Linked DNA regions of Homo sapiens: region 2 is linked to region 1. Evidence: fine-mapped expression QTL. A gene starts in region 1. The other region holds a variant in brackets. All regions are shown on one strand. Distances are from middle to middle.

Region 1 (4,322 bases):
CCCCATACCCACACAACTCCAGCCACTCCAGCTTCCCTGCTGCTGCTGGGGCACACCAGCCTTGCTCCCGCCTCCATGCCTGCTGCACTCTCTGTGTGGCTTGCTATCCTTTTTTTTTTTTTTTTGAGACAGTTTCACTCTTGTTCCCCAGGCTGGAGTGCAATGGCGCGACCTCGGCTCACTGCAACCTCCGCTTCCCAGGTTCAAGTGATTCTCCTGCCTCAGCCTCCCAAGTAGCTGGGATTACAGGCATGTGCCACCACACTCGGCTAATTTTGTATTTTTAGTAGAGACAGAGTTTCACTATGTTAGCCAGGCTGGTCTTGAACTCCTGACCTCAAGTGATCCGTCCCCCTCAGCCTCCCAAAGTGCTGGGATTACAGGCGTGAGCCACGGCGCCTGGCCAGTGGCTTGCTATCCTTTAAGTGACACATCAGACCAGCCCTTCTTTTTTTAAAAAATAAAAAAATAAGACAGAGTCTCCCTCTGTTGCCCAGGCTGGAGTGCCATGGCCATGCTGGTCTCGAACTCCTGACCTCAGGTGATCCACCCTCTTCACTCTCCCAAAGTGCTAGGATTACAGGCATGAGCCACCGCACCCAGCCAGAACAGCCTTTCTTGATTATACTTCTTAAAATAGCCCCTCACACAAGGAAATTATGGAGGCCAGTGGATACGTTCATTATCTTGATTGTGGTGATCCAAGAGCCAGGAAGATTTGTTCTCTACTTGTCCAGCCTCATCTTTCCCTAACCTGCAGATGATACTCTCCCAGCTATGGGAAATGCATCCATTCCTGGGGAGCCATACTCTCTCTAACCTGAAGTCTCTGCACATGCTGTTCCCTGTCTGAAGACACACGTCTCCCACCCTTGCCTCCCTACCCCTGGTACACAAACTGTACTTCAGCCAGCCAGCTCCTGCCATCCATCCGCCTTTAAGTTTGATGGCATCCTTAGGAAGCCCCCTTAGCACTACACACAAGGCGCAGTTAGGTCTCTGCCCCTGGAGCCTTAGCTATGACTCCAATTCAAGCCTCCGATTTCCCCTTCCCTTGGCAGCTCAAGTCCTCCCAGTGCCTAGCACACTTCATGGTATAGACCAGGCGCTTAGAACGTACGGATGGATGGATTGGATGGATGGATGGATAAGTCTCAACCCCAAAACTACTACTTTCTGGCTCTGGAAAGAGCGGAGGGGCTTCCTAACAGTGTGGAAGAGTGAGCCTGATTCTAAGCACCTTCTTGTACAAGCCCCACGGCAGGGCTGGGGAAGGGGGTATCCTTGGGAGGTCCTCTTGGGGATGGGGAAGACCTGAAAGGACTCCCAGCTCCAGACAAGCCCTAGTTCCTGCCCCGGGAGGCAGGGGCCCTTCCTTCCGCCAGGGAAGCACCGGGACTCTAAGCCGGCCGGCCTGCTCTGTCTTACCCGCCCCGTACCCCCGCCCCCGTCTCGGGAGCGGGAGAGTGGTGGACTTTTCCCTACCAGACTCACAGCCCTCACGCCCGCACACACTGTGTTTGCGGAGAGGCCAGTACAACCTCCCCCAGTTTCCGGAGCCACTTGGCGCCCCCTCATTCCCGCTCCAGCAGCCCAAGCCTCGCTTCGCCCCTAGTGCCTCACCATCGCGCCAAGAAGCCAGGGCCCGGGAATTTCTTTTTCCGGTCCCGCAGGGTCAGCTGAGTCGACGATCACGTGACTTGGACTAACTGCCTCTGGGAGGGCGGGGCCTGCTCGAGTGAGGCCGGGAGCGGACCGCAGCCCGCTGGAGGTGCAGGGGGCGAAATGCTGGCGTCTCCTCCTCCGTCTCCCAGAATCCTTCCCTGGAAAAAACTGGCGCCAACCGCCAGTTTAACTGAGGACCGAATTAAGACATTAGGAAAGACAGTGGAAGTTATTTCATTTGTTTAACTTAAGGGGGTAGGATCCCGGGAGCCAGGGTGTTTCAGGTCATTGACACGTTTTCCACTGTTAAGCGAATAGCATTATTCACAGCTGCGGGCTGTGGCAAAAGACATTTTAAAAACTATTGACGTCTACTACACATACAGAAAATTGTACCTATTATAAAGCTTAATAAGTTTTCATCAACTGTACACCTCACATAACCAGCACCCAGGTAAGGAAATAAACCAGATAACTTCTTCAAGTGCATGGGTATTTTATTTCATTTTGATGAATCATCTAGGTGCCTAGCAAAAAGGGCTGTCATAATTACTTGCTCAGGAAAACTCCCTACAGCTTCAACATCAATAGATGCTTATCTTAATTTTTGCCAGTCTGATGGGGAAGAAAAATCGGTTGCTTAGGTTGCAGTGGTAGTCTGATTACTGGTAGCTCTGAGCTAATGGGTAGTCTAGAACAACTAAGTTTCCGACATTGACTTGAAGAGGCAAAAACAAAAAGACAAAACAACAAGAAAAATACATTTGAGAATAGACTAATAACCAGAGACAAAATTGAATACAGTCGTCCTTTGGTAACCTCAGGATGTTGGTTCCAGGACCCCAGAGATACCAAAATTCACAGATACTCAAGTCCCTGATATAATATGGCATAGTATTTGCAAATAACCTGTGCACATCCTTCCGTATACTTTAAATCATCTCTAGATTACTATAATACCTAATACAACGTAAATGCTTTGTAAATAGCTGTTATAAAGTTTTTTAATTTTTTTTTTTGAGACGGAGTCTTGCTCTGTTGCCCAGGCTGGAGTGCAGTGGCGCGATCTCCACTCGCTGCCAGCTCTGCCACCCGGGTTCACGCCATTCTCCTGCCTCAGCCTCCCGAGTAGCTGGGACTACAGGCGCCCGCCACTGCACCCGACCTGTGTTTTTTTATTGTTTTACTTTTTCCAAATATTTTCGATGCACAGTTGGTTAAATCCAAGGATCCAGAACCTCAGGATACAGAGGGCTGACTGTAGTTTGAGCTCTCTCCTCAATTCCATGCCTATCCCATGCAACAGGTGCAGCTGGTTTTATTGTTGCAGGCTTTCAGGTTTTTAAAAGACAGAGCCCATGACAATTAAACTGCACTATAAAATAGAAATGTAAAGTGTCCCCAATTCATGGTAAAATTGAGCTCATTTCTGAAGAGTTCTTTTACAAATCATAACCACTAGCCTGTTGAAAACAACAGTACGTTAAGTTACTAGACTATCCTAAACCATGTCAAAAAAATTTTTTAAGAATGTTAAGACCTTTAATCATAGCACTTTGGTAGGCCAAGGCCGGTGGATCGCTTGAGCCCAGGAGTTCTAGACCAGCTTGTGCAACATAGGGAGACCCCAGTCTCTACAAAAAATTACCCGCTTGTCCTGGTGCACACGTGTTGTCCCAGCTACCTAAGAGGCTGAGGTCAGAGGATCTCTTGAGCCTGGGAGGTGGAGGCTGCAGTGAACCATGATGGCACCACTGTACTCCATCCATCCTGAGCAACAGAAGGAGACCATCTCAGAAAAATAAAATAAAATAAAAATAAATAAATAAATAAATAAATAAATAAATAAAGGCTGGGCACGGTGGCTCATGCCTGTAATCCTAGCACTTTGGGAGGCCGAGGCAGGCAGATCACCTGAGGTCAGGAGTTCGAGAGCGGTGGCCTGGCTAACATGGCAAAACCTGTCTCTACTGAAAAAAAACAAAAAAAATTAGCAGGGTGTGGTAGTGGGTGCCTGTAATCCCAGCCAGTCAGGAGGCTGAGGCATGAGAATCGCTTGAACGCGGGAGGTGGAGGCTGCAGTGAGCCGAGATTGCACCGCTGCATTTCAGTCAGCTTGGGCAACAGTGTGAGACTCCGTCTCAAAAAAAAAAAAAAAAAAAAGATGATTTGACTATTTAGAGCCGTGGTTCTCACACATTAGAGTGCATCATCATCACCTGCAGGGCTTGTGAAACCGGCTGCTGGGCCTCACACCAGAGTTTCTAACTCAATAGGACTGAGGTGGGGCCTGAGCATTGCGTGTCTATATTCCCAGGTGACATTTGAGACCATGCTTTGAAAACCACTAGTGTAGGGAAATATACTACAGAATATGTTATGAATATTCTTGAGAATATGTATATATGTTAACTTAGGGTTTCTGTCCAGTGGAAAAGATAACACCCAAAGATGGCAGTTTTATTTCCCAATATGATTTTCTTTTTTTTTTTTGAAATGGAGTCTCGCTCTGTCACCCAGGCTGGAGTGCAGTGGCGCCATCTTGGCTCACTGCAACCTCCACCTCCTGGGTTCACGCCATTCTCCTGCCTTAGCCTCCCGAGCAGCTGGGACCACAGGCGCCCGCCACCACGCCGGGCTAATTTTTTTATATTTTT
Region 2 (4,388 bases), 200 kb before region 1:
GGGCGACAGAGCGAGACTCTGTCTCAAAAAATTAATTAATTAATTAATAATAATAATAATAAAATGAGGGCAGGTGTGGTGGATCATGCCTGTAATCCCAGCGCTTCAGTAGGCTAATGGGGGAAGATCACTGGAGGCCAGGAGTGCGACACCAGTCTCGGCTGGTGAGACCCTATCTCTACAAAAATTAAAAAAGTAGCCAGATGTGGTGGCACACACCTGTAGTTCCAGCTACTAGGGAGGCTGGGGCAGGAGAATCATTTGAGCCTAGGACTTCAAGGTTACACTGAGCTATGATCATGCCACTGCACTCAAGCCTGGGCAAGAGCAAGATCCTGTCTCTTTTTTTTTATTTTTTATTTTTTTATTTTTTGAGACAGGGTTTCACTGTTACCCAGGCTGAAGTGCAGTGGTGTGATCACAGCTCACTGCAGCCTGGACCTCCTAGGCTCAAGTGATCCTCCTACCTCAGCCTCCTGAGTACCTGGGACTACAGGTGTGCACCACCACACCTGGCTAATTTTTAATTTTTTTTTTAGAGACGAGGTTTCCCTGTGTTGCCCAGGCTGGTCTCAAACTCCTGGGCTCAAGCGATCCTCCCACCTCAGCTTCCCAAAGTGCTTGGATTACGGGCATGAGTCATCTCGTCCCACCTGGATCATCCTTTTTTTGTTTTAAATAGAGACAGGATCTCACTATGTTATCCATGCTGGTCTCAAGGAATCCTCCCACCTCAGCCTCCCAAAATGCTGGAATTATGTGTCACCTCACCTAGCAGCCGCCTGGATCATTCTTGCAGCAACTGAAAAGTACAAACAGGAAGGCAGCAGAAGTAGTGCTTCCAATCAGACCTGATTCACATTTTTCTTTCTTTCTTTCTTTCTTTCTTTTTTTTTTTTTTTTTTTAGAGACAGAGTCTTGCTCTGTCACCCAGGCTGGTGCGATCTCAGCTCACTGCAACCTCCACCTCCTGGGTTTAAGCGATTCTCCTGCTTCAGCCTCCTGAATGGCTGGGATTACAGGCATGTGCCACCACGTCTGGCTAATTTTTGTATTTTTAGTAGAGACAGAGTTTTGCCATGTTGGCCAGGCTGGTCTCGAACTCTTGAGATCCACCTGCCTTGTCTTCCCAAAGTGCTAGGATTACAGGCGTGAGCCAACATGCCCGGCCACACATTATTTTTAAAAAAGTATTTACAGTGCACTCAAACTTAGTTGACTCTATTCCCTTTTCTTTCATTGTGCCTATTTATTTGCTCTATCTCAATGGACTAAACTTTTGTAAAAGTCAGTTTCACTTTTGTTTTTTATTTCTGATGCTTTCCTTCAAAAAGGCAGAGAAACTGAGGGGTATTTTATGTCTTTAAATTTTTTAATGATACCTTTATAGGTCTTAGCCATAAGGAATTCTATACTTCACACTTCCTAATAAATAAAACGTGACATATAATTTAGAAGTTCACACATTCAGGCCAGACGTGGCGGCTCTTGCCTATAATCGCAGCACTTTGGGAGGTCAGGGGAGTTGCTTGAGGCGGATTACTTGAGGCCAGGAGTTCGAGACCAGCCTGGCCAACATGGTGAAACCCCGTCTCCACTAAAAATACAAAGTTAGCCTGGCGTGGTGGTGCGCGCCTGTAATCCCAGCTACTCAGGAGGCTGAGGCAGAAGAATCACTTGAACCTGGGAGGCCAAGGTTGCAGTGAGCCGAGATCACACCGCTGCACTCCAGCCTGGGTGACAGAGGGAGATTCTATCTCAAAAAACAACAATAAAAAAGTTCACATATTCAAATGGGTGAACATTTCTACCTTCGTGGTCCTCCAATTAAATCTTCTCTACTAGGCTGGGCGCGGTGGCTCATGCCTGTAATCCCAGCACTTTGGGAGGCTGAGGCGGGCGGATCATGAGGTCAGGAGTTCGAGACCAGTCTGGCCAACGTAGTGAAACCCCGTCTCTACTAAAAACACACACAAAAAGTAGGCAGGTACGCCTGTAATCCCAGCTTCTTGGGAGGCTGAGGCAGGAGAATCACTTGAACTTGGGAGGCAGAGGTTGCAGTGAGCCAAGATTGTGCGATTGCACTCCAGCCTGGGTGGCAGTGCGAGACTCCATCTCAAAAAAAAAAAAAAAATCTTCTAAATACCAACTTCCTTCAGAGAGAAGATAGTAAATGTAATTTGTTTACTAAAGATAAATCACTGGCCGGGCACAGTGGCTCACGCCTATAATCCCAGCACTTTGGGAGGCCAAGGCGGGCGGATCATGAGGTCGAGAGATCAAGACCATCCTGGCCAAAATGGTGAAACACCTGAGATTACAGGCGTGAGCCACCACGCCCGGCCAAAAAAAA[A/T]TTTTTTAAAGGTTGCTTATAGTTATCTTCCAATGCTGTTTCCCAGTTCATTTTCTTTCTTTCTTTCTTTCTTTCTTTTTTATTTTTTTTATAGAGACTGGGTCTTGCTTTGTTGCCTAGGCTGGTCTGGAACTACTGGATTCAAGTGATCCTCCTGCCTCAGCCTCACAAAGTGTTGGGGTTACAGGTGTGAAGCATTACACCCAGCCCCAGTTCATTTTCTCTCCCCAGAGGTGACCATTATTACCAGTTTTTTGTGTATCCTACAAATATTTATGTGCATATCTAAATTCCTATAATACTTTTTGCTTACTAATAGTCATATTACTTGTTTCATATACTGTATACTTAGATATACACTGTGTGGTTTCTGAATTTTATTCTCTTCTTTAACATTCCTTTTTTTTTTTGAGACAGGGTCTGGCTGTGTCACCCAGGCTGGGGGGCCATGCAGTGGTACAGTTTCAGCTCACTGCAGCCTCTGCCTCCCGGGCTTAAGTGATCCTCCCACTTGTGGGACTGTAGGCGTGTGCCATCATGCTGGGCGAATTTTTGTATTTTTTGTAGAGACGGGGTTTTGTCATGTTCCTCAGGCTGGTCACGAACTCCTGAGATCAAGCAGTCTGCCCACTTCGGCCTCCCAGAGTGCTGGGATTATAGATTGGAGCCACCACACCTGGCCTAAAATTCCTGTCTTTTTGCATCAGGTTGTTACGCATCTTTTGGCTTCTGTTAGGTATGACCTTCAGTGCAATGTTACATAGTGGTGGTAATAGCAGGTACCTGCTGGCCTTCTCATCTTTAATAGAAAAAAATTACGGGGCCTATGTGTGATGGATTTTACGCAGTGCATTTTCAGCATCTGTTGAGAAGGTTATATACTTTTTTTTCCTTTCCTGTTAACATAAAAATTGCTTTGATAGATCTCCTGATGTTAAACCAAGTCTTTACATTCCTCGGAGAAGCCTGTAATGTGAGAGCTATCTTTACTGTGAAGCTTTGTGTGTGTGTGTGTTTTGTTTTGTTTTGTTTTGTTTCGAGACAAAGTCTTGCTCTCTCTCCCAGGCTGGAGTACAGTGGCACAATCTTGGCTCACTGCAACCTCTGCCTCCTGGGTTCAAGTGATTCTCCTGCCTCAGCCTCCTGAGTAGCTGGGATTACAGGCAGGCACCACCACACACAGCTAATTTTTGTATTTTTAGAAGAGACAGGGTTTCACTATGTTGGCCAGGCTGGTCTTGAACGCCTGACCTCAGGTGATCCGCCTGCCTTGGCCTCCCAAAGTGCTGGGATTACAGGTGTGAGCCACCACGCCTGGCCTTTTTTTTTTTTTTTTTTTTTTTGAGATGGAGTCTCCCTCTGTTGCCCTGCTGGAGTGCAGTGGCACCATCTCGGCTCACTGCAACCTCCGCCTCCTGAGTTCAAGTGATTCTCCTGCCTCAGCCTCCCGAGTAGCTGGGACTACAGGTGCGCACCACCACGCCCAGCTAAGTTTTTTGCATTTTTAATAGAGGTGGGGGTTTCACCGTGTTGGCCAGGATGGTCTTGATCTCTTAACCTCATGGTCCACCCACCTAAGCCTCCCAAAGTGCTGGGATTACAGGCGTGAGCCACCGAGCCTGGCCTTTTTTTTTTTTTTTTTTTTTTTTTTTTAGGGAAGATATTTGACGATTCCTCTTGTTTTTGTTTAGATCACCATTTATTTGATTTTCAGCAATCACTAGTTTTTTTTTTTTTTTTTTTTTGAGACGGAGTCTCACTGTGTCACCCAGGCTGGAGTGCAATGGCATGATCTCGGCTCACTGCAACCTCAGCCTCCTGGATTCAAGCAATTCTCTTGCCTCAGCCTCCTGAGTAGTTGGGATTACAGGCGCCCACCACCATGCCCAGCTAAGTTTTGTATTTTTAGTAGAGACGGAGTTTTGCCATATTGGTCAGGCTGGTCTCGAATTCCTGACCTCAGGTGATCCGCCTGCCTTGGCCTCCCAAAGTGCTGGGATTACAGGTGTGAGCCACCATGCCTGGCCTGCAATCA

Which allele goes with the higher level. Positions count from the first base shown, and alleles are read on the strand shown. Sizes are in standard deviations (SD) of each study's normalised expression.
For the expression in monocytes of the gene that starts at base 1,653 in region 1, A is the high allele of the variant in region 2 and T is the other (large effect, 1.3 SD a copy in CEDAR).

Evidence for each region. PIP is the estimated chance that this variant, and not a neighbour inherited with it, causes the effect. A credible set is the group of variants that fine-mapping cannot tell apart.
Region 2: its variant is the best candidate, but not a certain one, in a credible set for the expression of COMMD4 in monocytes (CEDAR, PIP 0.54).

The regions. Positions count from the first base shown.
Region 1 is chr15:75,333,394-75,337,715 of GRCh38, reverse strand. COMMD4 (COMM domain containing 4) reads right to left here and starts at 1,653. Exons shown (of 8, transcript NM_017828.5): 1 at 1,624-1,653. The coding sequence starts at 1,626. RefSeq lists enhancers at 1,260-1,429, 1,770-1,819.
Region 2 is chr15:75,537,062-75,541,449 of GRCh38, reverse strand. All of the region lies in intron 1 of PTPN9 (protein tyrosine phosphatase non-receptor type 9), which reads left to right. Among named protein-coding and RNA genes, the nearest start is that of PTPN9, 40 kb to the left of the region's middle. The variant A/T (reference allele first, on the strand shown) is at 2,354.